Homo sapiens: one gene and its partners. The protein of the gene in region 1 purifies or fractionates together with the protein of each later gene. This does not show direct contact. Each region holds a gene or a part of one and is shown in the gene's direction. Other genes may lie near its edges. The genes, in order: SLC45A2, CLPTM1, PCNX3, GTF2E1, ACACB and ZFTRAF1.

Evidence for each region.
Region 2: the proteins of SLC45A2 (region 1) and CLPTM1 purify together in Homo sapiens (affinity purification with mass spectrometry; one large-scale study listed by BioGRID and IntAct). This does not show direct contact.
Region 3: the proteins of SLC45A2 (region 1) and PCNX3 purify together in Homo sapiens (affinity purification with mass spectrometry, with the first as the bait; one large-scale study listed by BioGRID). This does not show direct contact.
Region 4: the proteins of SLC45A2 (region 1) and GTF2E1 purify together in Homo sapiens (affinity purification with mass spectrometry, with the first as the bait; one large-scale study listed by BioGRID). This does not show direct contact.
Region 5: the proteins of SLC45A2 (region 1) and ACACB purify together in Homo sapiens (affinity purification with mass spectrometry; one large-scale study listed by BioGRID and IntAct). This does not show direct contact.
Region 6: the proteins of SLC45A2 (region 1) and ZFTRAF1 purify together in Homo sapiens (affinity purification with mass spectrometry, with the first as the bait; one large-scale study listed by BioGRID). This does not show direct contact.

Annotation. Positions count from the first base shown.
Region 1 is NC_000005.10:33,981,173-33,986,496, reverse strand, and holds the start of SLC45A2 (membrane-associated transporter protein), read left to right. Parts: upstream 1-1,803; 5' UTR 1,804-1,913; coding exon 1,914-2,298; intron 2,299-4,084; coding exon 4,085-4,261; intron 4,262-5,324. UniProt on the Homo sapiens protein: Proton-associated glucose and sucrose transporter. May be able to transport also fructose. Expressed at a late melanosome maturation stage where functions as proton/glucose exporter which increase lumenal pH by decreasing glycolysis.
Region 2 is NC_000019.10:44,985,595-44,990,425, forward strand, and holds part of CLPTM1 (putative lipid scramblase CLPTM1), read left to right. Parts: intron 1-860; coding exon 861-981; intron 982-1,584; coding exon 1,585-1,829; intron 1,830-2,485; coding exon 2,486-2,579; intron 2,580-4,800; coding exon 4,801-4,831. UniProt on the Homo sapiens protein: Involved in GABAergic but not glutamatergic transmission. Binds and traps GABAA receptors in the endoplasmic reticulum (ER).
Region 3 is NC_000011.10:65,628,602-65,633,432, forward strand, and holds part of PCNX3 (pecanex-like protein 3), read left to right. Parts: coding exon 1-102; intron 103-217; coding exon 218-347; intron 348-755; coding exon 756-814; intron 815-918; coding exon 919-1,134; intron 1,135-1,749; coding exon 1,750-2,003; intron 2,004-4,831.
Region 4 is NC_000003.12:120,769,584-120,774,414, forward strand, and holds part of GTF2E1 (general transcription factor IIE subunit 1), read left to right. Parts: intron 1-1,144; coding exon 1,145-1,346; intron 1,347-4,831.
Region 5 is NC_000012.12:109,262,251-109,267,081, forward strand, and holds part of ACACB (acetyl-CoA carboxylase 2), read left to right. Parts: intron 1-106; coding exon 107-219; intron 220-1,981; coding exon 1,982-2,136; intron 2,137-2,859; coding exon 2,860-3,030; intron 3,031-3,138; coding exon 3,139-3,275; intron 3,276-3,985; coding exon 3,986-4,112; 3' UTR 4,113-4,831. UniProt on the Homo sapiens protein: Mitochondrial enzyme that catalyzes the carboxylation of acetyl-CoA to malonyl-CoA and plays a central role in fatty acid metabolism.
Region 6 is NC_000008.11:144,448,706-144,453,826, reverse strand, and holds the end of ZFTRAF1 (zinc finger TRAF-type-containing protein 1), read left to right. Parts: intron 1-366; coding exon 367-605; intron 606-1,256; coding exon 1,257-1,468; coding exon of another isoform or gene 1,469-1,647; exon of another isoform or gene 1,648-2,702; intron 2,703-3,056; coding exon 3,057-3,448; 3' UTR 3,449-4,245; downstream 4,246-5,121. Other genes in the region: TMEM276-ZFTRAF1 (uncharacterized protein LOC157542 isoform 1 precursor), read left to right, coding at 367-605, 1,257-1,468, 3,057-3,448.

The DNA of each region.
Region 1 (5,324 bases):
TTCCTTTAGCAAATGTTTATTGAGGATCTACTAGGTGCCAGGTATCATGATACTTGCTGGGGATACCATAATGAACAAAACAGACCTGTTCTCCGCTCTTGAGGAAATCAAAGACAAACACAGGATATGGAATAAACCCAGAATTATCTCATTGTAAAATGTGTTAAGTACCACGAGGAGAAATATCAGGGCGATCTGACACAGCTAATGATTTGAAGAAGGGTGTGACCTGCCACCATTTTAAATCTAGTTATTTCACTCCTGAGCTGTGTGTGTGGAAAACTTGTAGTAAAAAATAGAATGTCTATATTTATAAAAAGTTTATGAAAAGATATCAATTTATTTACATTTTGACAAACTCTATGTAATAAGGCTTTATTACCTCACGGCCATGTGTGTGATCATGTGTAATAGCATGTGTGTATGAGAGAGAGAAGCCATATGTAATTATGTGTAATAACGTCTGTGAGAGAGAAGCCATGTGTGTGATCATGTAAAATAACGTGTGTGAGAGAAGCCATGTGTGTGATCGTGTAAAATAACGTGTGTGAGAAGCCGTGTGTGATGTGTAATAACACGTGTGTGAGAGAGAAGCTATGTGTGCAATCATGTGTAATAGCATGTGTGTGTGAGAGAAGCCATGAGTCCGATCATGTGTAATAACGAGAAAAGCCCCATGTGTGATCATGTGTAATAGTGTGTGTGAGAGAAAAGCCATGTGTGTGGTCATGTGTAATAATGTGTATGAGAGAGAAGCCGTGTGTGATCGTTGTGTAATAACGTGTGTGAGAGAGAAACCATGTGTGATCATGTGCAATAGCATGTGTGTGTGAGAGAAGCCATGTGTGATCATGTGCAATAGTGTGTGAGAGAGAAGCTGTCATGTGTAATAATGTGTGAGAGAAGCCATGTATGATCATGTGTAATAACGTGAGAGAAGCCATGTGTGACCATGTGTAATAACGTGTGTGAGAGAAGCCATGTGTGTGGTCATGTGTAATAAAATGCATGAGAAGCCATGTGTGATCATGTGTAATAGCATGTGAGAGAGAAGCCATGTATGATCATGTGTAATAACGCATGTGAGAGAAGCCATGTGTGACCATGTGTAATGTGTGTGAGAGAAGCCATGTGTGATCATGTGTAATAGCATGTGTGTGAGAAGCCATGTGTATGATCATGTGTAATAACATGCATGAGAGAAGCCGTGTGTGATCATGTGTAATAGCATGTATGTGAGAAACCATGTGTGATCATGTGTAATGTGTGTGAGAGAAGCCATGTGTGTGATCATGTGTAATAGCATGTGTGTGAGAAGCCGTGTGTGATCATGTGTAATAGCATGTGTGTGTGAGAAGCCAGGTGTGATCACGTTTAATAGCGTGTGTGTGAGAGAAGCCATGTGTGTGATCATGTGTAATAATGTGTGTGTGAGAGAAGCCACGTGTGTGATCATGTGTAATAGCATGTGTGTGTGAGAGAGAAACCATGTGTGTGATCATGTGTAATACTGTCTGAGAGAGCCCATGTGTGTGATCACGTGTAATAACGTGTGTGTGAGAGGGAGAGAAGCCATGTGTGTGATCACGTGTAATTGTGTGTGTGTGTGAGAGAGAGAGAAAGAGAGAGGGAACAGTACAAAGGAGGATCCCTTTAGAAAAGTATTCCAACGTCTTATGGAGCCAGAGGGCTGATTCACAGCTGCTAATCTCTGTCATGCTTTCCAGCACCACCCCCTCCCTCTCATCATAACTTGTGATCTTAGAGGCAGGAAAGAATTTGAGCCCCTCCCCCAGCCTGACCATCTCTGTTGGTTGCTCGGCCAGGCTCCACGTCAAATCCAGTTTGAAACACAGACCCTAGGACCACGCAGGAGGTGGTGGGCTCGCAGGAAGGTTCCTCTCCCAGTGGCCATGGGTAGCAACAGTGGGCAGGCTGGCCGCCACATCTATAAATCCCTAGCTGATGATGGCCCCTTTGACTCTGTGGAGCCGCCTAAAAGACCCACCAGCAGACTCATCATGCACAGCATGGCCATGTTCGGAAGAGAGTTCTGCTACGCGGTGGAGGCAGCGTATGTGACCCCAGTCCTGCTCAGCGTAGGTCTGCCCAGCAGCCTGTACAGCATTGTGTGGTTCCTCAGCCCCATCCTGGGATTCCTGCTGCAGCCCGTGGTCGGATCGGCCAGCGACCACTGCCGGTCCAGGTGGGGCCGCCGGAGACCCTACATCCTCACCCTGGGAGTCATGATGCTCGTGGGCATGGCTCTGTACCTCAATGGGGCTACTGTTGTAGCAGGTAAGTGGGCTGCACAAGGTGGGCAGACAGGGATATGTGTCTTAGTGTGTACCTCTGCAGGAGGAGGATGTTCATGTGTTTGACCTTTCCTAGAAATTTGTTAGAATTGATCTCTCCTAGGTTACAATGAACTTCCCCTTTGACAAATTTGGCCCAGATTCTGTGGTTGGGGAGCCTCTACTTCTAGAAATATCAAAATAAATATGTTTCATTGTTGTGAAGATTTAAAAATAGGATTAAATTTGTATCTATTTTATTAAATTTGTATCTATTTTATCGAATTGAATATTTTTACATATTTATCAATTGAGTTACTTTTTGAGCCCATTATGCTCTATTTAATACTCTTATCAAATTGACTGGCTGCCAAATAGCTCCATAAATATTTACAATAAGTCACCTGTGTATCCAAATAAGTTAATTCTGTTCATAGTTTTATGTAGAGCGTTTTAATAGGCGTAGGGCATAAGCCCATCAGCTCAAGAGGACCTTTCTGGCATTGCAAATTCTGGACAAAAGCAAACCTGAGGGTAGGCATTTTTTCTAGCCATTAATCAGCTACCAATTAATCAGTAATTGATGGTAGTACAATAAAGTTGCATTGCAAAAAGGATCGCTAAAAATAGCACACATTTGTAGATCATTAACTCTCAAGCTAGCAGAATCGGTGATTATGAGGCAGGATAATCAATTATCATTTGTACATATTTGAAAGAAAGCGTAAATGTACAAATGTAGGATATTTCCAGGAGAATGAACAAAAAGCTGATAAGCATTGTTGACTCTAAGGAGGATTACTGAAGGACAGGAGGTGAGAAGTGGCGGGTAGACTTATTGTTCATTTAATTTTATACTGCAATTTTTAAAACGTGTATATAATCTATGCTATTCTTAAGTTTAAAAAGCAAATGGAAACAAGAGAAACAACAATGTATCTTTTATAGGAGATTGGGTAAACGATTACAGCGTATCCGTAGAATGAAAATCCAGCTGTTAAAAATTGTGAGGAGCTGAAATTATATGAAGAAAGTTGGTTACTGCATCAGTGCTGTTCAAAGATGTGGCCTCTGACCTGCCCCTCAGCATCAGCAGAGACCGTTAGAGATGCAGTTTCTCGGGCCCCCTTCAGGCCCACCAATTGAATCAGAGTCTTGGGAAATGGGGCCAGCAATCTGTGTTTTAACAAGACATACAAGCGATAGTTCAATATGCCAGACTTTGAGAAGCACTGCGTTTGACTACCATTGTACACGTGTGTCTGTATGTGCAGAAGTGCGTAAAAGGAGGCCTTAAAGCCTGACCTTTGCTGGGGCTGGGATTGGAAGCATCTCCCTCAGCTTTTTTAATAGAATTGGAATTGCTTGCGATAAGCATGCATACTTTTTTATTTAAGGAGATATTTTACATACCAGAAATTTCACTAATTAAAAGTGTACAATTCAGTGCCTTTAGTATGTTGTGCAACCATTACCACTCTCTAATTCTACAACATTTTCATCACCCCCAAAATAAACCCATTACCATCAATAGTCACGTCCACTTTTCCCCTATGCACCAGCCCTAAGCAACCACTAATTTACTTTGTGTCTCCATAGATTTGTGTTTTCTGGACATTCGCTTGCATAATTTTTAAAACCTGAAAAAAAATGTAAAGCTATTTTTATTTGGAAAAAAGCAAAATAAAAGCAAGGAAGATGATTTTATGGCAAGAAGTTTAGGTGGAAATTACAAAACGCGGATGATTCTAAAACAGGATTTAGGAGACCAATGTTTATTTTTCTTTTAGCTTTGATTGCTAACCCAAGGAGGAAGCTGGTTTGGGCCATAAGTGTCACCATGATAGGTGTCGTTCTCTTTGATTTTGCTGCCGACTTCATTGATGGGCCCATCAAAGCCTACTTATTTGATGTCTGCTCCCATCAGGACAAGGAGAAGGGCCTCCACTACCATGCCCTCTTCACAGGTAGGGAATATTCCAGAAAGTCTCTCCTTCAGCTCCCCAGACAATGAGGCACTTCCACTAAAGCCATCCAGTGTCTCTACACGTGGAGTTTTTTGAATGAACGGGTCAGCTGATGGGCTGCTCCCGTCATGCGGGCACTGTCTCCCCGTGCATTTCTCTGAACAGTCAGCTTGTGACTAGTGCTGCAGTTTCTGCAAAGGAAGTTTACAGAAGAGCTTTCTTAAGAATGCTTTGTGGAGACAATTACAACTGAAATGGAAAGAAGCCTTGTGGATTGTACTTTTGCATTAGAGCAGAGGATCTCAAGCATCAGCAATGTAGCATCCACATTCCTTAGAAGGTCATTGAAAATACAGTTGCCTGGGCTCCTTCTCCAGTTATTCTGATTCAGTGAGTCTAAGGCGGGGCCCAGACATTTGTATTTTATTTAATAAAGACCCCAGATGATTTTGTGGCAGGTTTAAAAAACAAAAAGAGAAAACAAACCAAGCAAACAAAAAACTCAACGTCTTAGAAATTTCTTAGTTATGTAAAAGGTTGGCATTTCCTCAACCTTGTGGTTTGAAAAAGTTCATGCCAGGAGGAAAATGGGAGCTCTCTTGATCTCTTGGGACTGTTGCCAGCCTACTTTGGTTACTGTTGGTCAATTGTTTAGAGCAATGCTACTCAGAGCACCAGTTAGGACTATGCTAGAACTAGGCATTGAAATATAAGGCGACAGGAGGATCCTGGCCCAAGAGGATTTTTATATCTAAGAGGGGGACTCTATCAGCCCACCTTATTTGATTGTCTTTGTAGCCCAGCCAATGCCTTTATTTATGTTTTGATGTATTCTCTCTCCTTCCATGGCCAGGTAGGTCCATGAAAAGCAAGATTTCAAGTTTTGCTCATAGTTTCTGTCTCTAGAGCTAAGACTGCTGCCTGCCCATGGAAGCCACTGGAGCCAATATTTGTCATTTGAGCAAACATTTGAATAGTTGAAAACATGAAGGAGTGAGGCCGTTGGAGCACAGTTGGTAGATCCTCCTCTGTGTAAGGAAGGCAGAGGGGCAGGAGTGCAGCC
Region 2 (4,831 bases), on another chromosome or scaffold:
CCGGAAGTGGCAGGCCAGGGACTCTCACCCACACAGCCAGGCCCCAGAGCCCAAGCTCAGCCTGGCTCCAAGCACACACACGAGAATATGGCTTTAGTAGGAACTGCAGGATTCATAGTTGCTGTCACTCCCAGTGGGCTGGGGAGCCGGGCAGTTAATCTGTGGTTAACCTGCAGTGGGCACTAAGAGACTTCCTCTCTCTGCGGGTGGTCCTGTGTTGGGGGGGTGGTCCCTGCTCATGGAGCTGAGGCCACCGTGCAAGAGTGTGTGGAGCCTGCTGTCATGAGGCTGGGCTTCGCAGCCTGGCCTAGGATGCCAGCCCTGCCTCTACCTCTACCTCGGTTTTCTACATGTGGGGTGGGAGGATCCTGTCGGTGGCCGGAAGGGTCCTGGGTGGCGGAATCTCTAAGCCTAGGGAGGAGAGCCTTCTGCCAGCAGTTGCTGTGGTGGCTGATATTCTGCTGCCAGGGTTGTCAGGGGAGATGGCTCATGCCTGTTTTCCCAGCATTTTGGGAGGCCGAAGCAGAAGGATCACTTGAGCCCGGAAGTTCAAGATCAGCCCAGGCAGCATAGTGAGACCCCATCTCTTCCAAAAAAGAGAAAAAAGAAAGAAAGAAAAGAAGCTGTCCATGGTGGCTCACGCCTCTAATCCCAGCACTTTGGGAGGCCGAGGTGGGAGGATCGTGCTTGAGCCCAGAATTCGAGACCAGCTTGGGCAGCATAGTGAGACCCCATCTCAGAAAAAAAAGAAAGCAAAGATTAAGATTTTCTCGGGAACCCTGGGGAGGAAGTGTACAGAGAGTGATAGTCCCCGAGCACTTCCACCTGCCTCTGAGGTCCTTCCCCCCATGTTGCCTCAGAGGGCTGAGGACTATGGGCCTGTGGAGGTGATCTCCCATTGGCACCCCAACATCACCATCAACATCGTGGACGACCACACGCCGTGGGTGAAGGGCAGTGTGCCCCCTCCCCTGGATCAATGTAAGCTCCCCAGCCCTGCCAGCTGCCTGCAGAGCCTTTGAGAGGGTGCTCGGGGTCCATCTCCTTGTCTTCTCCTGGCCCTGTCCCCCTGAGAGAGCTTTCCAGGGCTCCACCCTCCCAAGCTCCCACCCTGTCCTATCCCCTTCCCATGTCCTCTCCCTCTCCCACACCACCACCCCTGGGGACCCCAGGACTGACTTCTACACGCCAGCATCGGTCCGCAATCAAGTGCCATCCAGCCCACAAACTGTTTTCAAAAAATGTCTTATCACTTGCCAGCTTTTGAAATTGAGGCAGTATCACTTAAAAGCCACAATTTCTGGCTTATTTTATAAAACTGGGTTACATGGTCACCCACAGGGCAGCCGTGGGCTGGAGCTGAGCCACAGCTGCCCCCTTCAGTGGGGACCTGCCTGCCCTTTGCCTCAGTCCCCTCTGCTGAGGTCAAGGCACCCTTTAGCTCCTCATGGTGTGGCCTAGAAATGTCCCCTGTCCTCCAGTCTCTGTAGAGGGGCCCTGTTGGGTCTCTCCAGACATCTGAGGCCTGCGGGTACCCTGGCCTCCTGCCCGGGCCAAATGGTGCCCCTGCCCCACGTGCTGCAGATGTGAAGTTCGACGCCGTGAGCGGTGACTACTATCCCATCATCTACTTCAATGACTACTGGAACCTGCAGAAGGACTACTACCCCATCAACGAGAGCCTGGCCAGCCTGCCGCTCCGCGTCTCCTTCTGCCCACTCTCGCTTTGGCGCTGGCAGCTCTATGCTGCCCAGAGCACCAAGTCGCCCTGGAACTTCCTGGGTGATGAGTTGTACGAGCAGTCAGATGAGGAGCAGGACTCGGTGAAGGTGAGTGCGGCCGGTGTGGGCGGGACTTCCCGGTGCCTTCCTGGGCGCAAGAGGCCAAGAGGAAGTGTGCCAGGCCTGGGCTGTGGGACCTCCCGCCTGGTGCTCCTCTGCCCACAGTTTCACAACCTCCCAGGTCCCTTCTCCACAGTGAAAGGAAGTGGGCACCCAGCCCTCCAGCCCTAGATGACTGGGGGTCCTCTCCCCAGGCTGTTCTGTTGGACCCTTTGGGTCCAGACCTGTCCCTTCCTCCTTCTGTCCCAGACCTTGTGTCCCTGGCCCTGGCTCCAACTCTGTGTCTCTGCCATCTCACTGGGTCCTGAAATGTCAGCCTGTGTCTGTGGCGTGAGGCTCGGCTTTGCCTCCTGGGCTGTCGTCACTGTTGGGTCTCTGCTCCTGGCTCCCAGTGTCCCTTCACCCACTCCCCGCAGCACTCCCTTGGCCTCTGCCTCTTCCCCTAGTGCCATCTCCCCGTCTCTTCTGTCTTTGTGAGTCACCCTCCTCTCTCTCCCCATCTGCCCATCTCTGACCCAGTCTCCTCCTGGCTGGCCCACCTTCAGCCTCCCTCTACAGGCGGCCCCAGGGGCAGCCCTCGGGACAAAAGCTAGTGAAGGTGCTCCTGGGTGGGGACAGGCTGTGCTCACATGTGTCCCCTGCAGGTGGCCCTGCTGGAGACCAACCCCTACCTGCTGGCGCTCACCATCATCGTGTCTATCGTTCACAGTGTCTTCGAGTTCCTGGCCTTCAAGAATGGTAGGAACAGGACCCCAGGGCTAGTGAGAGGCTGTGCAGGGTGGGGGACAGGACCTGCCCCCTTCCTCCTCCCCTCCCTCCCCACATGTCCTCCCCCTGCCTGGGGTCTCTCAGCCCCACTCTCCAGAGGCCTAGTGAGCTGGGGAGGGGCAGTGGCCCCAAAACTCCCAACCCAGAAATTCCCACCCACCGGGTGTGGAGCTGAGGGAGGGGCTGGCCCGCTGGTGGGGCAGAGGCCAGGCCAATACTGCCAGGAAGCAGGGCTGGGGAACTCCAGAGCCAAGAGCAGGGAAGCCCCGGAGCTGCTCCCGCCACCCTGCCCGGCAGGCTGCCTGCTGCGGGAGGCCGCTTAGGGCTGAGTGGACGGGGCCTGCCCAAGTGGGAAGGAGGAGCACTGTCCCCCAAAGGTCCCTAGGTTCTAAGGCTGACCATACTGATGGCCAGCGTTTGAGGAGAAGCAGCCACATGCCAGGCACTGTCCTGGGTACCCTCCCCAGTAGCTCCTTGAGCCCTGTGGGAGCCAGAGGCTCAGGGATGTCACTTGCCCAGTCACACGGTTCCTAAGGGGCAGATGGTTCCAGCCCCAACTCTCATCTTCTAGGCCCTGCAGGCCACTTCTTCCTTGCCCAGAGCACCCCAGTCTGAAGGAGTGGCCTGCGGCCCTGTAGCTCCCGCAGGCGGCAAGAGGAATGAGTAGTAGTATTCCTGGTATTAAGATGCTATTGCCGGCCTGGTGGTGGCTCTCGCCTGTAATCCCAGCACTTTGGGAGGCCAAGGTGGGAGGATCACCTAAGCCCCGGAGTTTGAGACCAGCCTGGGCAACAAAGCGAGATTCGTTTCTACACAATTTTTTTTAAGAATTAGCTGGGCATGGCAGCGTGTGCCTATGGTCTCAGCTACTCGGGAGGCTTGGGCCTGAAAGGTCAAGGCTGCCGTGAGCCATGATCACACCACTGAACTCCATCCTAGGCAACAGAGTGACACCCTGTTCCAAAAAAAAGGACGCTCTTGCCATTATTGAGAACTACCATCTGGAAGAATGCAGTGTCATACGGGCACAGGAGCTGGTGCCGACCCCAGCCAGCCATCTACCAGCTGTCGCTGGGAGACGGGACCCTTCTGCCTAGGAGCTGGCTTGGCTGGGGTCCAGTGAGAAATGAGGCACAAGAAGGCTGTCCTCCCCAGTGTCATGCAGCAGGGGGCGCAGGCCTCACTTGGCACCAGTGCTGTGTGGCCTCCCTGGTCTAAGGAGAGGCTTGGGCCCAACTGCTCCCACGAGAACCCACCAGAACCCTGTCTCCAGACCCATTCTTCTCAGTTGGGACAGGGGTCATTCTGATGGGCAGGGGTGGGTGGGGTGAGGCTATGGAGTGTGCCAGAGCTCTGGGATGTGGGGGAGCTCTGGGATGTGGGGGAGCTCTGGGATGGGGTAGGGTGCACATGGACCAGAATTCACAGCCCTCACTCCCTGAGTGCAGAGCTGGCCCTGACTCTGCAGGACTGCAGACCTGGCTCCACCACTGTGCTACAGACGTGGTGGCTCAGCCTCCTGTGGCTGCGGTTAGATGCTCAGCCGGGCGGGGTCAAGAGAGGGGTGTCCGTGGTGAGACCAGGGCTCAGAGAGGAGCATGCTGACATGGATCCTTGGCAGCATCTAGGCGGAGCACTGGAAGGAGCTCCAGACTGGAGCCCAGGGCCCTTTTCAGTTTCCTGAGCATGGCTGTGAGCCAGTTCCTTCCCGGTGTCAGGGCAGGGGCCTGGAGGAGGTGGTCTTGAAGTGCATGCCACAGATCTTCCTTCCCAGGGAGGGCGAGCTGGCACCATGGTGTGGCACAGACCCCGCGTCCCTTCAGATTCTGCCATGCCAGGCTGTTTGGCCTCAGGGAAGCAGCTTCCCTGACCAGTCCTTAGCACCTGGCACGTGGTGAGCCCTGTCCATGGCACCAGTCACCGTCACCATCAGTCAAGGGACTGCACCTTGGGGTGCTGGGTGCTGACGTCCTATGGGAGGGCTCCAGGGGTGCCGCCTGTCTGGTGCTCTGGGGGTCACCCAATGAATATGAGAGCCTTCCTGGGAGAGAGGGGTCTCGTTCAGCACCCCTCCTGAGGACCCAGCCCCACCCCAGGGTGTGAGGATGCAGGCCAAGGGGGCCTGAGGGAGCTGCAGTAGGGTCTCAGCACCTCCTCAGCCTCCTGGTTCCCCCCTACCCCCTGCGCACAGATATCCAGTTCTGGAACAGCCGGCAGTCCCT
Region 3 (4,831 bases), on another chromosome or scaffold:
ACTTGCTGTACAAGCTGCGTTTCGTGCTGACCTACATCGCGCCCTGGCAGATCACCTGGGGCTCGGCTTTCCACGCTTTTGCCCAGCCGTTTGCCGTGCCACGTATCCAGCCTGTGTTTGGGTGGGGGTGTGCAGGGAGGGCTGTGGCCTGGGGCAGTGGGGGGTGGTGGGGGGCTGGGAGGTCCTGTTGCCCGCCGCCTCCTTGACTGTGGCTCAGACTCGGCCATGCTGTTCGTCCAGGCCCTGCTCTCGGGGCTCTTCTCCACGCCTCTCAACCCACTGCTAGGCAGTGCCGTCTTCATCATGTCCTACGCTCGGCCCCTCAAGTTCTGGGAGCGCGACTACAAGTGAGTCTCACAGGAGGCGGGAGCATGCCCAGCAGGGCAGGAAGGGAGAGGTTTGGAGCCCAGGCTGGAGGCCACCCACAGAGGGGCCCACAGCAGGTATGGGAGGGCTTGGTCACAGTGGGGACACATGAGGCGGCAGATCCAATGCAGGGAGAGCCTGCACCAGGCCAAGGCTTCAGGCTCACAGCTTGGGGATAGTGGGGTCTGGGGATGAGCTTAGCCTCCCAGCTTCTTGGCTGTGTGTCCTGTGTGAGTCCCTTCATGTACCTGAGCCTCAGTCTCCTCATCTGCCTGCATAACGGGGCTGTCCTGGATGGCGTTGACCTTGTGGCACAGGGAGAGCATGAGCAGGGTGCACCCTCTCTTCACCTTCTTGGCCAACCGCCTTGTTGCACTCTCTCTGAACAGCACTAAACGTGTGGATCATTCCAACACCCGCCTGGTCACACAGCTGGACAGGAACCCTGGTGTGTACCCAGCCATCCAAGGGGCTTTAGGGCAGGGCCTCCCTGGGGAGGGAGCCTCGCTAACTTGTCACTTTGTCCATTTGCCCGTCTGTTCTGGGTCTTAGGCGCTGATGACAACAACCTCAACTCCATCTTCTATGAGCACTTGACACGTTCGCTGCAGCACACACTGTGTGGGGACCTGGTGCTGGGCCGCTGGGGCAACTATGGCCCTGGTGACTGCTTCGTCCTGGCCTCTGACTACCTCAACGCCCTGGTGCACCTCATCGAGGTTGGCAATGGCCTCGTCACCTTCCAGCTGCGTGGCCTTGAGTTCCGGGGTGAGCCGCAGGACCAGGCTCGGGTGGGCAGGCACAGCTCGGGCCTGATGTGGGAGCTGTGTTCAATAGCACGTGCGAAGGAGGTCCAGTCCAGCTCTGTCCAGGCTGGCGGGTGGCCTTGGGCAAGGCACTCCTCCTCCCTGGGCCTGCGTTTCCCAGTCTGAGCAATGAGGTGGCAGGGTCTCTTGGCCAAGCCCTGTGCCTGCCCCAACTTTAGGTCCCAGTGACTCTACAGGTCACTGCAGTGAGGGCCTGGGCCTGGAGGTCTGAGTTCTCACACCCAGCCTGCTCTGTGGTCTCAGGCTTGGCCCATGGGTTGGGCGCCATGAGTGAGCCAGCTCCTTCCTCTCAGGAAGACGTGTGTGTTGGATGCCCGAGAGTGCAGAGGGGCCAGACCGTGTCCCTGCTCCCTCCCGCCCTGCCCTTGGATGCTGGGAGTTGGGAGGAGAAAGGCAGGCGCTCTTTCGTGAATCTTGGCATCCAATAAGGTTGACTCCCCTGGCGTCCAAGGGGGTGAATGGCAGCAGGCCTCTGATGCCATGTTGGTCACTCTCCCAGGACAGGGCAGGTAGGGATTGTTCTAGCAGCCCCTGACTGCACACCCCTCCTCCACAGGCACTTACTGCCAGCAGCGCGAGGTGGAGGCTATCACCGAGGGTGTGGAGGAGGACGAGGGCTGTTGCTGCTGTGAACCTGGCCACCTGCCACGGGTCCTGTCCTTCAATGCTGCCTTTGGGCAGCGCTGGCTGGCTTGGGAGGTAACAGCCAGCAAGTACGTGCTGGAGGGCTATAGCATTAGTGACAATAATGCTGCCTCCATGCTGCAGGTTTTCGACCTCCGCAAGATCCTCATCACCTACTATGTCAAGGTACGGTGGGCAGGTGTGGCCGGGCAGCAGGGCCCTTGCGGGTGAGCGCTCGCTGACCAGAGGCCCCAGTACCCCCTTTCTGGGTTGTTGGGAGCCTGTTTTGTCCAAGGGAAGCTGAGGCCTCAGAGAGTTTAAGTGTCCCCTGAGGTGCCACTGCCAGACCTCAGGTTGCAGGGGCCTCTGTGCCCATATGGCTCTGATAGGTGCCCAGGCAAGGAAGGCTTGCTTTGGGCAGTGAGTATGGGGCAGGTGGGCAGTTGCAGAGGCCAGCCTTTGAAACCACCAGCCCCTGCCCCCAGCTCACCCAGCACAGAGCAGTGGTAGAGCTAACAGTTGTCACGTTAACGATCATCATGGGAGCAGCTGCTTGAGCAGTAACATTTACCACGGGTGGGCGCTATGCTGGGCATCTCTCCTGAGCTGGGTGGAGTCCCCCACCCTTTGAGAGGGGCCCTGCTATCTCACAGATGTGGAAGTTGGCTTGCAGAGGTTCCAGAATCTGAAGAAAATGGCCAAGCCAGGCCTTGAACCCAGGCTGGCCCTGAGCCACAGAGCTTTCCTGCCTTAGCCTGGGGGCTCTGAGCCAGGCCTGAGGATCTTGAGACCTCTTGGGGGTGGGAGGGGGTTGGTGAGGCAATGTGGGGTACATAAGGAGCCCTGGAATGGGGGTTCTGATCAGCCTGGAATGTTTCTTCCCTGTGTCCCTCAGCTTACCCCTTGAGAAGTGGGGGTTATTGCAGTTCTCTGAGATGGCAGAAATGTTGAGGCTTGGCCAAGCGTGGTGGCTCATGCCTGTAATCCCAGCACTTTGGGAGGCCAAGGCAGGTGGATCACTTGAGGTCAAGAGTTTGAGACTAGCCTGGCCAATGTGGCGAAACCCCATCTCTACTAAAAATACAAAATAATTAGCCGGGTGTGATGGCGGGCACCTGTAGTCCCAGCTACTTGGGACGCTGAGACAGGAGAATCACTTGAACCTGGGAGGCAGAGGTTGCAGCCAGCCGAGATCGTGCTACTGCACTCCAGCCTGGGCAACAGAGCAAGACTGTCTCAAAAAAAAAAAAGGAATTTTGAGGCTTGTGGTGCTCAGAATAAGCGTACTGGGAGTGGGGTGGCCTGCTGATCACAGTGCAGGCTCCCACGTGCCTTCTTAGGATCTACCCTGGTGCTCCCTATGTTGGGCTCGGTGGGTGGCCTACTGGGGCCCAGGTGAGCCTGCCACCTAGGTTCTCTCTGGAGTAGTTTCACGAGGCCCTGGCTGTCCTTCTCCAAAGGAAATCCTGTCCACACCACATATCAGAGGAGCTGTCATTTGTCATTCCTTCTGCCCTCCCAGCCACTCCTAGGCAAGGATTTGTGAGACCACCCCCCTTTCATCAAGAAGGAGGCTGTGTCTAGAGAGGGACATTCCCAGTCCCAGGTCACCGAGAGGTCATGGCCTGGTCCACCTTCCGGTCCCATCTTGAGAGAGGTGCCCTTGCCCAGGTTGCCCTGCTGTGCCTGCTAGGCTAGGGCCAGCAGGTTGAGATGCACCTGGCCAGGTCTCTTGTCCCATGGGGAAGCTGACTGGCCACATCTAAGGCTGCCTCAAAGGCTGGGCAGAATTTGAGTCTGGAGGAAGTGCTTGGAGGACCTGGGGTGGCTCCGCTGAGGATGTGGACTGAGGGTGAAGCTTGGAAGGACAAGTCAGGGCTGCCAGGGGTGGGGCGGGGGGAGGCGGGTGTGCTGGGGAGCCTGGTGCATCTGGGGAAGTGTCCCAGCTGCAGGGATAGGTCCTTTCCAGCCTTCGAGGTTGGCCAGTCGAGGCGGAGCCCCTCCCGTTAGCTTTGCCCTTCCCGTGGGAGTTACTGGGCTCTCAGACCTGCTTCTGCAGCTGGGAAGGGCTACAAGAGCAGGAAAAGGCACCGTGGCTTGAGGCTGCACGGAGTCTGGGCAGTGCTTCCCGGGAAGTACCTTGGGCAGAGCCCAGCTCGCAGTGAGCGCTCACAGGCGGAGCGGCTGCTGGTATTGCCCCCCGTCTTCATTTTCTTCCTAAGATGACCGTGAGTGTTGTGTCAGAGAAAAGGATGGCACTGGTGAAGGTTAACCAAGCACCTGATATGTGCCAGGCCAGCTCCTCTCCCGGTCCCTGAAGCTTTTCTTTTTTTTATTTTTTTTTGAAACAAGGTCTCATTCTGTCACCCAGGCTGGAGTGCAGTGGTGCCATCTGGGTTCACTGCAGTGTCCACCTCCCAGGTTCAAGTAATCCTCCTACCTCAGCCTCCCAGGTAGCTGGGACTACAGGCATGCACCACCATGCCTGGCTAATTTTTGTATTTTTTGTAGAGATGGGGTTTCGCCATGTTGTCCAGGCTGGTCTTGAACTCCTGGGTTCAAGCGATCCTCCCACCTCCACCTCCCGAAGTTCTGGGATTACAGGTGTGAGCCACCCTGTCTGGCTGAAGCTTTTCTTTTCTGGGTCTTTTTAGCAGCTCTGGTGGTGCCTGGATTGTAGAGGCGAGCTATGGGCAAGAAAGTCAGTCTGGAGCGGGTCTGCCCTGGCAAAGGGCCTGCCCCATTAGCTCCATCTTAGGGTGGCACATGGAATCCCCATCACCTCACTGGCTGCCCTGCCGGCCTTAACCCGCCCGTGCATCCTGGCCATGCCAGCTACCTGTCTTCCAAAGCTCCTGTACTTTTGCCCAACAGGGCCTTTTAACAAGAGGTCCAGGAGCCCCCAGCTTTGGGTACCACATGTGCCCGTGGCTTTTTTCTGAGGCGAGGCCTGATGGCTGTCATGCTTCAGCTGCCTAAAGGGACCTGTGACCCAGGCACTCTGAGGCAGGCCC
Region 4 (4,831 bases), on another chromosome or scaffold:
ATGGTAAAGAAGCAGCAGTCACTTGTGCAAGATGGGATTTTTTGTGGTTTGCATGGAGTCCTTGCTTTTGTCTGTTCTCAGACGCAATTCCACAGTGGCTTGGGTTTGCCTCACTTCCATCATAGTCTGATGTTAGTGATCTGTGAGATCTTGTTTGACAGAAAAATGCCACAGTCTAGCTGTGAGTGCTGAGCCACCTCCTAGCTGTGAAGGGCTGCATTTCTCTCTCTTTCTCACTTATTTGGGATAGATGTAGATTAGGTGGCATTTAGACAATAAGAAGATGTATTTTAGGGTATTTGAACAAATAATTTACATGCTATTGGCTATGTGTGAGGGGCAGTAAAGAAAATTATTATACTGGTAATGTATCAGTAGGATCTAGTGTTATGTTGAAGTAGAGATCACTTGGTTGTTTGTTCTTTATGTATCAATCATACATGGGGCCTTTTATAGCTAAATGTTTGAGTACTTAACTATTTGCCAGACACTAAGTACTTACATGTTCCCTTTTAATCTTTCAAGTAAGTTGAGTCAGAAAGGAAGGATGCATATTCCTGTCTTTGGGAATAAGAACCAAACTGGAAATCCAGGTGTGGCTAGTGGTGTAGACTGTTAAGTAATGTTTAAGAGTGTGAGTTTTAGCATAATAGATTGAATTGATTAGATACAAATGGTTAATAAATTTTAAAAAATAGCCTGTGACAATGTTCAGGATGACTAGAAACTCTTGGTTTTAGGTATTTATTTGGCTTTCCCCATAACGTAGGCCCAAATGTGTAATGTGAAAACAAAAAAGACTAAAGCTGCCAGGAAAGGGTACAAGTTGTGGTGGTAAGCTGTAAAGAATTTGGCTTTAAGTTAAAATAAATACATATTAGAAATATTGTGATTAAAAACTATGCTGAAGTTAGGGATGAAATTACTTTGAATACATCAAAAATGATAGATGGATAGATATGTGATGAATAGCAAAATGCTAATTGTAGAATCTAAATGGTGGTCACATGGCTGTTCACTGTGAAATTCTTTCAACCTTTGTGTATATTTGAAAGTTTTAATAATAAGATATTGGGGGAGGGTGGAGGTATAAACTATCTGCTAAAGTCTTCTCTCTGACCTGAGATACTTGTTTTCTCTGTAGGAACTTTCCGCTGTACTTTTTGCCATACAGAGGTAGAAGAGGATGAATCAGCAATGCCCAAAAAAGATGCACGCACACTTTTGGCAAGGTTTAATGAACAAATTGAGCCCATTTATGCATTGCTTCGGGAGACAGAGGATGTGAACTTGGCCTATGAAATACTTGAGCCAGAACCCACAGAAATCCCAGCCCTGAAACAGAGGTGAGTGTAGGCCCTGTGCTCTTACTAAGAACACATTTCAACCTGTTCTTGTTTTAACTACCTGTACCTTGGAGAACAAGAGTGGGTAATTTACTAGGAGACTCAAGACTGTAATGTTACGTAGGTTCTCAGTTGTGCCACATTTGTCTGATTAACGTGTGCCTGTGATGAAATTCGTTTGTTCTAAATGCAGAACACTGTGGACTTCAGGCAAAAATCTTTAAATATTTAGGTTTGACTTCAAGTACTCATTCTGCTTGGGACTGCAGCAACTCAGCCAATTGTTAGCTAATCCTAAATTAGTTGTGCCGCTTGGGGATATTTGAATTTTCCTAGCCAGCTTCTGAAGGCTGAAGGCCTTTAAGGAATTCAGCATTTTCTTTTTTGTTTTTGAAGCATTTTAATCACCTTTATTTCTTAGTTGTAATTGCAACTTCCTTGAAAGTAAAGTATAGCTGGTGTTACCTATGGGTTAATACTCCTAACAGTGGCTCCCTATTTTTATCAGTGTTCCCTAATGTTTGAATTTCAGAGGTAACCTTAGTTTTGCCATGCCAGAAAAGGTGGTTTATATTCTTTCTTGAAAAGCATAAATGAAAATTGGGGTCAGGGAGTGCTCTCCTACTCTACCCTTTTTTTTCTCTCCCTCTTCCCAGCATCAAGTAAGGGATATCTTTATTTAACCTTCACTTCACCCACTCCCTTCCAAAGAGCTCAACAATCAGGCTGTATTTGTATAGTTTTTAGGAGCATTCTTAGTATTTTATTTCCTGTGGTACTGATGTTACAGAATAGCCAGTCCTGAGTAAATTGGGCTCCTTTTAGATGGTTCAAAGCAATCCAATTCTACAGAAAATTTTGTATCTGTAAGAGTTATGAATTTTCTAATCCAGTACCGTGTGTCAGTTAGGATGCCTTTGCCTGTGATAACAGAATATCCAGCTCTAGTTGGAATTAGAATCCAGTCTAGCAGTAGATTGAACAATAAGAAAATTTGTCTTGCATGACTAGAAGTCTTGAAGTAGTACAGTTCAAAACTGGTTAATTTCACAGCTCAATTATATCTTCAGGGATCTAGATTTGTTCCATCTTTATACTCTGCTGAACTCAGCCTGTTGATTATCCTCTTGGGACCATGAGGGGAGCTAGTCTAATATGGCCATGTATTTCTAGGTATCACGTGCAGATGACAATGTCCAAATGCAGAAAAAGGGACCGTCCCTTCCTTGTGTCCTATTTTAAAACTGAAGAAAGGTTTCCCAGAGGGCTCCCTAGGATACTCTATTTATCCCCTGATGTCTCACTGGCTGCAATTGTTTTATATGCATATTTCTAAACCAGCAGCTGGCAAAGGAAATGAGATCACATGACTGGTACTTAGACTAGTTAAGGTTTACCTTCTAGGACTGGGGAAGGTCCCAGAGTTCTTTGGAGCAAATTGCCATTGGTATTTTAATAAAACCAATAAGCAAAGAAAGAAAGGAGCCACAGTTGATAGGAAACTAATAACATCTGTATCACAGATAGCCTTAACTTTTGGTACTGGTTATTTATTTCTTTTTGTGTAAGAAAAGGAATTCCTCTTTTGAAAAAGGAATTTTTCTTTTTGTATCTTTTTCAGTCCTTTTAAGTTATATTGTAGCTCTAACATACAAGCTTATGAGGGAAATTGATTTTACAAAAATACAAAATTTTCTAAGCTTATGGATTATTTCATGTTGAAGTATGCGTCAGTGTAGTATCTGATTGCTTCCTACACAATATACTATCTGAATTATTCTGATGTTTCCTCTCCTACCTGTAGTTATTTGTCCTGTTTATCAAGATGCTTCCCCACTACAATAGCATTCAGTCACCACCACCACTGGCTTCCTGTCTCTAATGTTCTCCACCTACCACAATCCAGCTCCCCTTCCAGGATCTTTATTTCCATATCCCCCACTCACTGCAGGCCTTGGATGAGTCTTAGTGGTACAGTGACACCAGAGGCCCAACAGCAGCTCTCTGTATCAAGTCATCTTCTTCTTATCAGGAATGATGGTGACTCCAGGGATGAAGAAGAACCAGGAAATAGAGGAAATAAACTGATCAGGAAAAAAGGATACCCAAAAATCTGGTCATTAAGAAAAAAGGGAGGAAATGGAGGCAGACAAGAAAGACAGAATGGGGTTCCTAGAGCTGCCAGCCAGACCAAAGTAAAATCATTTCCACGTGGTCAGGAAAAAAACCATTAGGTTAGAAGATGTTACCCAGGTTATAATGTCCCCACCAAAGCATTTGACAAATTCCACTGCTTGGATATAACATCCTGGAGGTGGTATTGATTTGGCCTTTCTGTACTATAGGAGTATGAAGTTTTGAAATGGCCCATCCTGCCCCAAGGATGTAATAGTCCATCCTGCCTCAGTACAAGAGAAGAGGCATCAATAGAATGGTATGGGAACTCAGAGATGATAGCTTTTCTTTTTTTAAATAAGTGGCAATATTATTAGTTTGATTACTGATCTGTAATCAGTTAAATTCTAGCTTGTCCCTAGATCAGAAACTAGGGGCTACCTCTGCAGAACTGTCAGTAGGCCTAACCCAAGAATTGATGGACAATTCTATCCTTTCAGCAAGTCAACCTATTGATGAGATATAAAAATCTTCCTATCTTTCTAGAGTGGAATTCCTTGCTAGTAACCTTCCCTTTTTCATCATCTCTTAACACTTACCTTAAAGATTTTTAAAAATTTAGTTTTGAAATAATATTCCCCTCTCATCTCTGAGTAAGAGTTGTATCTTTTAAAAGTTCTAAAATTTATTAAATAATATAAAAAGATTCAAACATGAATTGTCATTTTTGTCATCTTCAATTAAAATTGTTCCAAATTTTAAAATTTGTTTGACTTATGGTCAAATGTCTGCTGCCTCAAACTAGAATAAAACCCATCTTGAATTTCTATGACAGAATACTAAAAACAAAAGACTTTTTAAAAGTACTCTTGTGTTAACATTTATTTTAATTCTGTTCTTTTCTCTCTAGCTTTCTTGTTTTTCTCAAAGTACTCCTCATACCTTCATAAGACAGTCTTTGTAGTCAATGCTAAAGATAGAGAATAGAGAAAAACTCTGTGTTCAGGATTATATATAAAGAGAAGCAGTAACCTCAGAGTGAGTGAGTCATTTAAGTCTGAATCAAGGAAAGATAAGGATGTGGTTGGCCAGATCAGAGAAATATGCCTATTCTGTCTCTCCCAGGTGGGTTTAGCTAACTCAGGGAGAAACATTTTGGGGTGGCAGATATATAGAGCAGGCTCAGCACATCAAGATGGGGATGTTGGCTGAGGATAGAAGAGGCATTGAAAGGAGTCAGAGAGACAAATGGGTGTGAGAGGAGAGGCCAGAATGTAGAATAAGCACAGAAACATAAAAAACCAGATCAGACCAAGAGAAAAGAGAAAGTAAAGTGAATGCTGAAGAAGAGAAAAGTTCGAAAAGCCAAC
Region 5 (4,831 bases), on another chromosome or scaffold:
ACCCAGATCTTCTGGCTCTCTTCCCTCCAGCTCCCCCCACATCCATTAGCCCTTGCTTGCTGGGCAATGCCTCATATACCCCCATCCCTGCCTCTTCTCTTTTAAGGGGTGGTGTTCTGGAACCAGAGGGGACAGTGGAGATTAAGTTCCGAAAGAAAGATCTGATAAAGTCCATGAGAAGGATCGATCCAGCTTACAAGAAGCTCATGGAACAGCTAGGTAAGGGGGTCCCAAAGGCTTCACCTCTCAGAGGTCAAGAGAGGCCCAGCTGGCCCACTGCTGGGGGTTTCTAGGATGTTAAAAATAAAATGAAAAAATACCAAAATACAGCTATAATAACTGTGAGATTTTTAAAGATATTCACATTTGTCTGTTTGTTTTGTTTTGTTTTTTTGAGGTCTGGCTCTATTGCCTAGGCTGGAGTGCAGGGTGCAATCTCAGCTCACTGCAACCTCTGCCTCCCAGGCATAAGCCATCCTCCCATCTCAGCCTGAGTAGCTGGGACTACAAGTACGCAACACCATGCCTAGCTAATTTTTGTATTTTTGTAGATGTGGGGTTTCGCCATGTTGCCCAGGCTGTTCTCAAACTCCTGGGCTCAAGCAATCCACCTACCTCAGCCTCCCAAAATGCTGGGGTTACAGGCATGAGCTACCATGATTGGAGGACATTCACATTTCTAAATCAACCTTTTTAACATTATATATATATATATATATATATATATATATATTGCCATCGTGAATTTATTTCTCAGCATACACAAAAGATAGCAATTGAAGTATTTGGGGCTGATGGGGATTATCAGAATTTTGGTGGCAAAATGTTCCTTTAGAATTCCCAATCAGAGATAAGATATTTTACTAATTTTGTTTGAATGACAGCTTTGTTTTACTTGTCATCTTTAGATGTAATTATCTTTATTTATTTATTTGTTTATTTTTGAGACAGAGTCTTGCTCTGTTGCCCAGGCTGGGGTGCAGTGGCGCAATCTCAGCTCACTGCAACCTCTGCCTCCCAGGTTCAAGCGATTCTCATGCCTCAGCCTCTCAAGTAGCAGGAATTACAGGTGTGTGCCACCACACCTGGCTAATTTTTGTGTTTTTAGTAGAGACAGGGTTTCACCATGTTGGCCAGGCTGGTCTTGAACTCCTGGCCTCAAGTGATTTGCCTGCGTCAGCCTCCCAAAGTGCTGGGATTACAGGCGTGAGCCACTAAGTCTGGCCACAAGATGATATTTAAATATCCATTTTAAGTGTCAGTGTCTTTATAACTGTGCTATTCACAAGATTTTTTACAGTGTGTGCGTGTAATTTCTTTGGCTGGTATCAGGGTAATGCTGATCTCATAGAATGAGTTGAAGTGTTCGCTCCTATTTTCTGAGTTTTTGCAGAATTGGCATTATTTCTTTATGTTTTTGATAGAGGTTTTTACCTATAAATTCAACTTCTTTGTTATATATAGGACTATTTGTGTTATCTGTTTCCTCCTAGGTGAGCTTTGGTGGTTTGTGTGTTTCAAGGAATTTGTCTATTTCATCTTAAGTTGTCAATTTGGCATAGAGTTGCTTATAATATTCCCTTATCATATTTTACAATGTGTACTAAAAATCATTGATATAGTATCCTACAAGCACGATGGGTCTGATGGAAGGGGAAAATGTAGAGTTGCATGTTGAATGCTGTCTTGCAATTGTGAGTGCATTTCTGAGACTGTACTAGCTATTTGATCTGAGACAAAGGGGGCCATCAAGATGGGCCTGGGGTGGGGGCCAGGCCAGTGGACTCTGGGGGACCTAGGGGGCTGAGGGCAGCCTGTGTAGCAGCAGGGGTAATATCAGAGTTAAAGCTCAGACCTCTCACAAGGCAAGGCCTGTCCTGCAAATCCTGATTTGTGCCTTCTTCAAAAAAAAAAAAAAATCTCCACCCCATCACATATGACCAGCTTCCATGGCTTGACTGGCCTTTCTGCTCACCTGCAGGGGAACCTGATCTCTCCGACAAGGACCGAAAGGACCTGGAGGGCCGGCTAAAGGCTCGCGAGGACCTGCTGCTCCCCATCTACCACCAGGTGGCGGTGCAGTTCGCCGACTTCCATGACACACCCGGCCGGATGCTGGAGAAGGGCGTCATATCTGTGAGAGCCACAGCTGCCGTGTAGGGTGCAAAGAGCCCACCCTGTTTTCCAAAACATGGAGGACATTTGGGCTCGGGGGCGGGGAGGGCGGTGGTGGTTGGGATGGGTCAAATGCTGCAGGAGGTGGGAGTCACCTGGGAACTTTAAAATAATCCCGATCCCCAGGTGGCACTGCAGACCAGTGAAATCCAAACACCTGGATGGAAGCCAGGCGGTCGTATTTTTTAAAGATCCCCAAGAGATTCTAATAAGCAGCAAAGTTCAGGGACCACTAGTCTGATGGCTCGGTCAGTTTGGACCTGGACCAGGGGTAGAAACCGTTGTTCCTGTCCAGCATTCACCCACCCCTCACCATTGCAAGGACTCCCACAGTCACCTCCTACCCATGTCCAGTGCTCATTGGTTCTCTTGCTGCATTGTTCTCCCTCCCAGCTGACTCATGCCTCACACGAGCCTGTGTTTGTGTCGGTTGAGGTAGAAGTGGGTGCCAGGTTTTTATGGGGGACATTTTTTCAACTATGGCCAGTCTGGAGTCCTGGTGACGTCCTGCCTCTGAGCAGGTGCCTTCTCCTCCCTGAGCCTCAGCTTACTTGCCTGGGATGATCTGGGAATGATCTCAGAGCCTGGGCCCAGCCCCGGGCAGCCACTGTCATGGGTGTGGTCAGAGCCAGTGTCCCGTCTCCTCCTTCCCTTTCCGGGGATTCAAGCCTGGCTCGTCCACAGGACATCCTGGAGTGGAAGACCGCACGCACCTTCCTGTATTGGCGTCTGCGCCGCCTCCTCCTGGAGGACCAGGTCAAGCAGGAGATCCTGCAGGCCAGCGGGGAGCTGAGTCACGTGCATATCCAGTCCATGCTGCGTCGCTGGTTCGTGGAGACGGAGGGGGCTGTCAAGGTGGGCCTGGGGTGAGAACGAGGCCGGTGAGCACAGGGGGTGCTGGGGGCTGAGACAGCTGGCCCACAGCTGGGTCCCTCTCTGAGGCATCCTCTGCCCCCTCCCCAGGCCTACTTGTGGGACAACAACCAGGTGGTTGTGCAGTGGCTGGAACAGCACTGGCAGGCAGGGGATGGCCCGCGCTCCACCATCCGTGAGAACATCACGTACCTGAAGCACGACTCTGTCCTCAAGACCATCCGAGGGTGAGTGGCCACCGCACCTGCTTCCCAGCCTCCTGGCAAGGACCCGAGCCTGGATTGACCCCTAGCTACCCGACTCCTATGCAGCCACTTGAACCCGCCACCCTGTGCAGTCTGGGGTTGTCCCCGCCCCCTCCCCGCTCCCCAGCAAAGAGACCACACTCCCTAATGTCGGGTCTCCCAGCACAGTGGCTGGGGTGGGACAGAGAGCCTAGAGGTACTCTGAAGGCCGTGTGAGATGCTTCCAACTCATGAACCTTGCTGGAATATGGACTTGTCCAAAGTCACAGCTGGAGCAGGGTTGGTCACAGAACCCACATTTGGAACCGCTAGCCTTCAGGCTGCTGTCTTCCACGCCAGTGTTGACCTTTCCAGAGGGTCCCCTCCCCCAATTGCCATGGGGTCACCCCGTGAAGGAGGGAGTCGAGCACAGGGGACCCCATTTTGGGGATGAAGCTGAGACTCAAGGCAGTGTCTTGTCTCAGGTCATGTCACAAAGCAGTGACCAGTAGGGACGGTGGTGCCTCAAGGCATTCTGAACTTCAGGTCACAGCCCCTCCTGCTGCACAGGACCATCACCCCCATGGGGACCACAGCAGGGACTCGGGAGCTCTGGGTTCTGGGGTGTGGCCCCACACAAGGACTCTGCCACCCTTGGGGCCACTGAAAAAGTGGCTGGAGTGATCCCAGCCCTCCTCTCACCTCCCCCACAGCCTGGTTGAAGAAAACCCCGAGGTGGCCGTGGACTGTGTGATATACCTGAGCCAGCACATCAGCCCAGCTGAGCGGGCGCAGGTCGTTCACCTGCTGTCTACCATGGACAGCCCGGCCTCCACCTGACCGTGGCCCGCCCAGCCACTCCCGGGACCACGGCAAAAGGAACCACCCAGACCCACCACCCGTACACCCTCAGCAGACCCTGAAGACTTGCTTTTAAACAAAGAAAATCCTGGGCACTTCTGCAGGGCTGCTGGTTCCGAGCTGACACCCGTCTTAACAAAAGGCCCAGGAGTGCCTCTTCCAAACAAAAACAGCCTCCTCTCCATAGCTGGGAAGTTTATTTTGTTTTGTCTCTGAAGACAGCAGTTTTATTGCATCACTAAATCTAATCAAGCTAAAACATCCCTGTTTCCTTTTGCAAAACAGTGCCTGGCATGTGGGATCCAGGCGTTCTTTAGGATCCTTGGATACCACATCGTGAAATCTTTTATTTTTTTACTCTGAGACCAGCACCAGATGTAAGTAAGCATCTCATATATTTCAGCCAAATAAATGGGCCAAGGGAAAAAAATATATATATATAGACAGGACTAGAGAAAACCTATTTTTGTAATGATGTTTCTTTGGATACTGTCTAGTCACCCAGAAAAATGTATGGATGAATTTTTTTTTTTTTTTTTGAGACAAAGTCTCACTGTGTCATGCAGGCTGGAGTGCAGTGGCATGATCTCACTGCAACCTCCATCTCCTGTCTCAGCCTCCTAGATAACTGGGATTACAGGTGCCCACCACCATGCCCGGCTAATTTTTGTATTTTTGGTAGAGACAGAGTTTCACCA
Region 6 (5,121 bases), on another chromosome or scaffold:
GGGCTCCCAAACTCTGGACCTGTAGGGGGGTCAGGGCAGTCGCTGGTCCCTAAGGGAAAAGCGTGACCCTCGGCCCCAGGTGGCTGAACCCGTCACTGCCAGGGCGAGCTGTCACCTCTGTGAGCTGATGAGGCCTTGCTTTTAGGACCTCTAATCTCTGCAAGAACCCAAGCTGGCTCTGCCTGTTTCTCCTGAGCAGCTCGCAGTGTTCACCACACTCCAGCACGACTCGGGACAGGCACGTGCGCCCCTCTGCACCAGCTGGAGTCCCTCAGGACACCTGGCTGGAGCTGATGGGCATGGGCGGGTGTGTGCGAGCATGAGCCCGCAGGTCTGTGAGCTTCGTCTCCCTTTCCTTCTTCGCAGTGTACTAATGGTCACTTGATGTGCGCTGGCTGTTTTATCCACCTACTAGCAGATGCCCGGCTGAAGGAGGAGCAGGCCACGTGCCCCAATTGTCGTTGTGAGATCAGTAAGAGCCTCTGCTGCCGGAACCTGGCCGTGGAGAAAGCCGTGAGCGAGCTGCCTTCAGAGTGTGGCTTCTGCCTGCGCCAGTTTCCCCGCTCCCTCCTGGAGAGGCACCAGAAAGAGGAATGCCAGGACAGGTAACTGAGGGTCAGGGGCTTAGCCTTACAGGCGGGGCCCAGGACTGCTGGGAGCCCACCCTGGTGCAGCAGGGCCCTGTGCAGGGTGGTCTGGCTGTCTCTGCTGTCTGGGCCTTGGGGACCACCTGTGTAGCCCAGTGACGGCCCTGTGGGAGGGTGCCTGCACAGGATGGGGACAGGTGGGTTTTGCACCCAGTTGTTATCCGGACATGAGCCTAGCCTTCCAGTGCTCTTTGTGGCTGTGGGGGAGCCCCTTGAAGGGCCCAGGACAGCGTGTCCAACGCAGGACCTCAGGGAGCTTGGTGTGAGGGTACACTGCCCATGGCTACCCATCCAGTGGAGGCAGCCACCAAGTCTCCTGCAGTGAGGCTGTGCAGGACCACCACTGCCAAACAGAGGAGAGAACCACGCCATGGTGCGGGGCACACAGGCTCAAGCTTGCACTCTTCCTTCCCCTCTCTCTCCCTTTTTCTGCCTGTCTCCTTTCTCTCCACATGCTGCCACTCTGACCTCATCCTGGGGGGTGGGCTCACAGTTACGTGTGTCCTGCAGGAAGGGGTTCTTAGCTGGATGGAAGCCATATGGGAGGACAGCTTGTTGCAGCCTCCTGTTCGGGGCTCAGTCTGTGAGTGATGTACCTGCCTCCCCCAGGGTAACCCAGTGCAAGTACAAACGCATCGGCTGCCCATGGCACGGCCCCTTCCATGAGCTGACGGTGCACGAGGCTGCGTGCGCCCACCCGACCAAGACAGGCAGTGAGCTGATGGAGATCCTGGATGGGATGGACCAGAGCCACCGCAAGGAGATGCAGCTGTACAACAGCATCTTCAGCCTGCTCAGCTTCGAGAAGATTGGCTACACAGGTGAGGCGCCCCGCCGCCTGCTGCATGCCACACAGGTGTGGGTTGGGGGGCTGGCAGCCAGGAGTCTGGGGGCAGCAGGCTCTGGGCACTGGGCACTGACAGCGCCGGACAGCCGGGCTCTGGACAAGCTCCCGGTGGACAGGTGGACACCTCGGTCGAGAAGACAGGCCGGAGACTGAGTGGAAGGAGGGGCCGAGGCAGACCCCAGGTGCACACCTGTGTGGCTCTCACAGCAGCCCCGCCCACCTGTCCTCGCCACCCTGGCTTCACCATCCCTGCAAGGTGGCATCTCACTGTGGGGCTCCAGAGCCTCAAGACAGTCAGGGTCTAACCAGAAAGTGGGCAGGTCTCAGGGGGCCTGGGAGCTAGGGGCCTGCCCCTCGGACCCTGGGGCAAGAAGAGCACCCTGCCGAGTGAGGTCCTACCTGCAGGCAGTCACTGCCCCGGCCATGGGCCTCTCAAGGCTGGCACGAAGCCATTCAGGGAGAGGGCTCCACAACAAGCTGAGGGTGCCCGACTCAAACTGTAGAACCGGGAGTGGACACCCACAGACGCCCAGGCTGGATGCGTGCGCAGGCACACTGGATCTCGTGGCTCTCTGGGCCGCTGCCACCGCCTTTGAACGTGTCGGGGAGCAGGAGCCAGGCCAGAGCCTGGCCCAGAGGACAGCGAGAAGCACCTGTTGATGCTGGGGCCACTGGAGGAAGCTCCATCCCTCTACTCTCAGCCCACACCAGGCGGCCAGCTCAGAGCACCAGGCGTGGCGCAAGCAGGGTGGTCGTGGGCAGCCAGTCCCGCCCTGCTGCCTGGACTGTGCCCAGCGGGATGTGGGCCCGAGCAGGCCAGAGAGGCCGAGGGCCTGGGGTCTCTGCGGCAGCCACAGCCCGTGGTGAGTAGCAGCCTTAGCTGTCCTGGAGATACCGGGGCCTCGTGGAGTCTAGGCAGGCTGGGGCACTGTGGCTGTGGCCGTGGCCAGGTGAGAAGCCCCATTCGCGCAGGAAAGACTGGCCACCTGGGAACCCACGCCTCCACGGAGGGACTTGCCGGCCACAGGCTGTGGGCTGCCCAAGAGGACTGTGCAGGCAGGGCTGCCTGCTGATTGGCAGCTCCGGATCAGGCCCGGTGCCTGCAGACCTGGTGCTCCCCTCGGGCAGGGCTGGGTGCCGCAGCCGCCTGCTGGCTTTTCTGGCAGCTCCTCTGTATCAGAACCAATAAAGTGCACTTGTTCTCGGAACCGCATCCTGTCTGTGTGTCTGCTTACCCCGCCCTGGGGGACACCCGGGGCTCGGGGCGGTGAGGGAGGCCAGCGTGGGTCGGGCACGCCTGGGGTGTGGCCTGACACGTGCAGCCTCTGGACTCTCCAGCTAATCCATGTTGATTCTGTTTGTGGTTGTTCCCCTCAAAGCTTGTGTGCACCTCCATTTGCCATAGTTGCGTTTGGCTTGCTTGTGACAAGCAGAGCCCGGTGTCCGGGTAAGTTGCCTTCCTCCCCGGCTGAGCCTGCCCTCGGCCTGGTCAGGGAAGGCGTTGCTGCCCAGCCCTGCCCACACTAACAGCCGGCTCTTTCCGGCCCTGTCTGTCTCCACAGAGGTCCAGTTCCGGCCGTACCGCACAGACGACTTCATCACGCGCCTGTACTATGAGACGCCCAGGTTCACAGTGCTGAACCAGACGTGGGTCCTGAAGGCTCGAGTCAACGACTCGGAGCGTAACCCCAACCTGTCCTGCAAGCGTACGCTCTCCTTCCAGCTCCTCCTCAAGAGCAAGGTCACGGCACCGCTGGAGTGCTCCTTCCTGCTGCTCAAGGGCCCCTACGACGACGTGAGGATCAGCCCCGTCATCTACCACTTTGTCTTCACCAACGAGAGCAACGAGACGGACTACGTGCCACTGCCCATCATTGACTCCGTGGAGTGCAACAAGCTGCTGGCTGCCAAGAACATCAACCTGCGGCTCTTCCTGTTCCAGATACAGAAGTAGGGCGGGGCCTCAGGATGTCCGAGGAGCCCACGGGCGGCATCCCAGCACCGCTGCCCTGTCCACCTGGCTGGCAGCTGCTTCACAGGACTATCTGATCACTTTAGCAAAGGAGGAGAACAAACGAAGCCAACACAGGGCAAGTCTGCATGCGTGCGCGACGGGGCCCCCGCCTCCGGCTCACCCCCCCGACCCCTGCCTCCCCTCCTTCCGAGGGCCGCCAGAGGCTGGGCTGACCCGAAGAGGAGACGGTGCACCAGGCGCCCCGAGGCTCAGAGACGGTGGCAGCAAGGAGGCCGAGAGGCACAGCGACCCTGCCCCAGCCCTTCTGTGCAGTCAGGCGGCGGTGCTGCTCCATCCCTGCGGGTTCCGGCGGGGCGCGGGGGCCTTGCTGACATCAGACGGGATATCCGAATATCTGATAGCAATTAAAAGGCAGCCTTGTTTCGTACTTTCTGTTTTGTTCGAGGGGAAGGCATGGCTGTGAATGGACAGCGTGGGGGCTTTGGTTTGGCCTGGGGGTCAGAGCCTGCCCCGCCCCCATCTGTGTGCCCGCACACGTCCCCCGAGGAAAGACTCAGAGACACTGCCTCCCCCTACACTCTGTCATGGGGTCTTGAGACTGAGGCTTGGGCAGGAAGATCCAGGTAGGGTCGGGGCTGCCCTGGCCAACCGGCCGCTCCCAGGGAGACAGGACTCAGCCACCAGGGCTCAGCAGGCATTTTCCGAAAGCAGGGTGAAATTGTCTCTTCCCAGGAAAAAGATTAAACTCCTTGCAGGCTCTTGGATAAGTTACACAATTTTAGTGAGAAAGAGTCTATTTACTGTAGATTCAGCCTTGAGGGCCCAGCGTCCCCAGGCTGTGTGGAAAGCTTGGGTCAGTGCTTGGGCGCCTGGCTGGGTGAGAGTCTGAGGTGTGTCCCCCATGCTGCTCTCGGGGTCCTGCTGCTGGCCCTGCATTCAGGGCTCGCTGCAGAGGTCAGAGGTTGGGCAGCCCAGCTTCTCACCTGGAGGAGGTGGGCCCTTCCCATCCTCACCCTGGCCGCCCCCTGATGTGCCCCGTGGTGGCTGAGCAGGGCTGGCCTAACAGGATGGGAAGGAACCCTGCCTGGAGGGGTAATCCCTGGTCCTTTCTTCCCCTGGGACTCCCAGGGCTACTGGGAAGGATACAGCTTGACGCCCCCACCTTTGCTTAGGAGATGTGGCTCTTCCGTGATAGCTTTTTGTTGCTTCAATACCAAAGAACTGGTTTCCTCTGCTCCAGTCAGGTGCATTAACTTGCCTCACAGCAGCCCAACCCGCCCCCACTGGCTGCTGGGGCCTGGCCCACATTGTCCTGTGCTTTGCTGGTCACGGGTCGAGGGCTGAGAAATGGAGAGGAACTGGGGGCAGAATGTAAGCGCCATCATCCGGGCGGCTGACCATGGCACAGCCCAGCATGACCCTCCCAGTCAGCTCTTCCCTCCCGGGCCGCCGCACTGCCCCTCACGGGCTGAAACTTTCTGGAGCTGTTTCTGAGAATGCTGTGGGTTTCTACTCCCAGGCCAGGGCGTGTGGCCTGCTGGGAGTGCCTCGCTGCCGGAGCCTTATCTCCTGCAGAGCTGATGTGGCCTGGCCACCAAGGGCATGGGAAGGCCCCATGTTTGGTTTTCTGCTGACCACAAAGAAAGACCCCA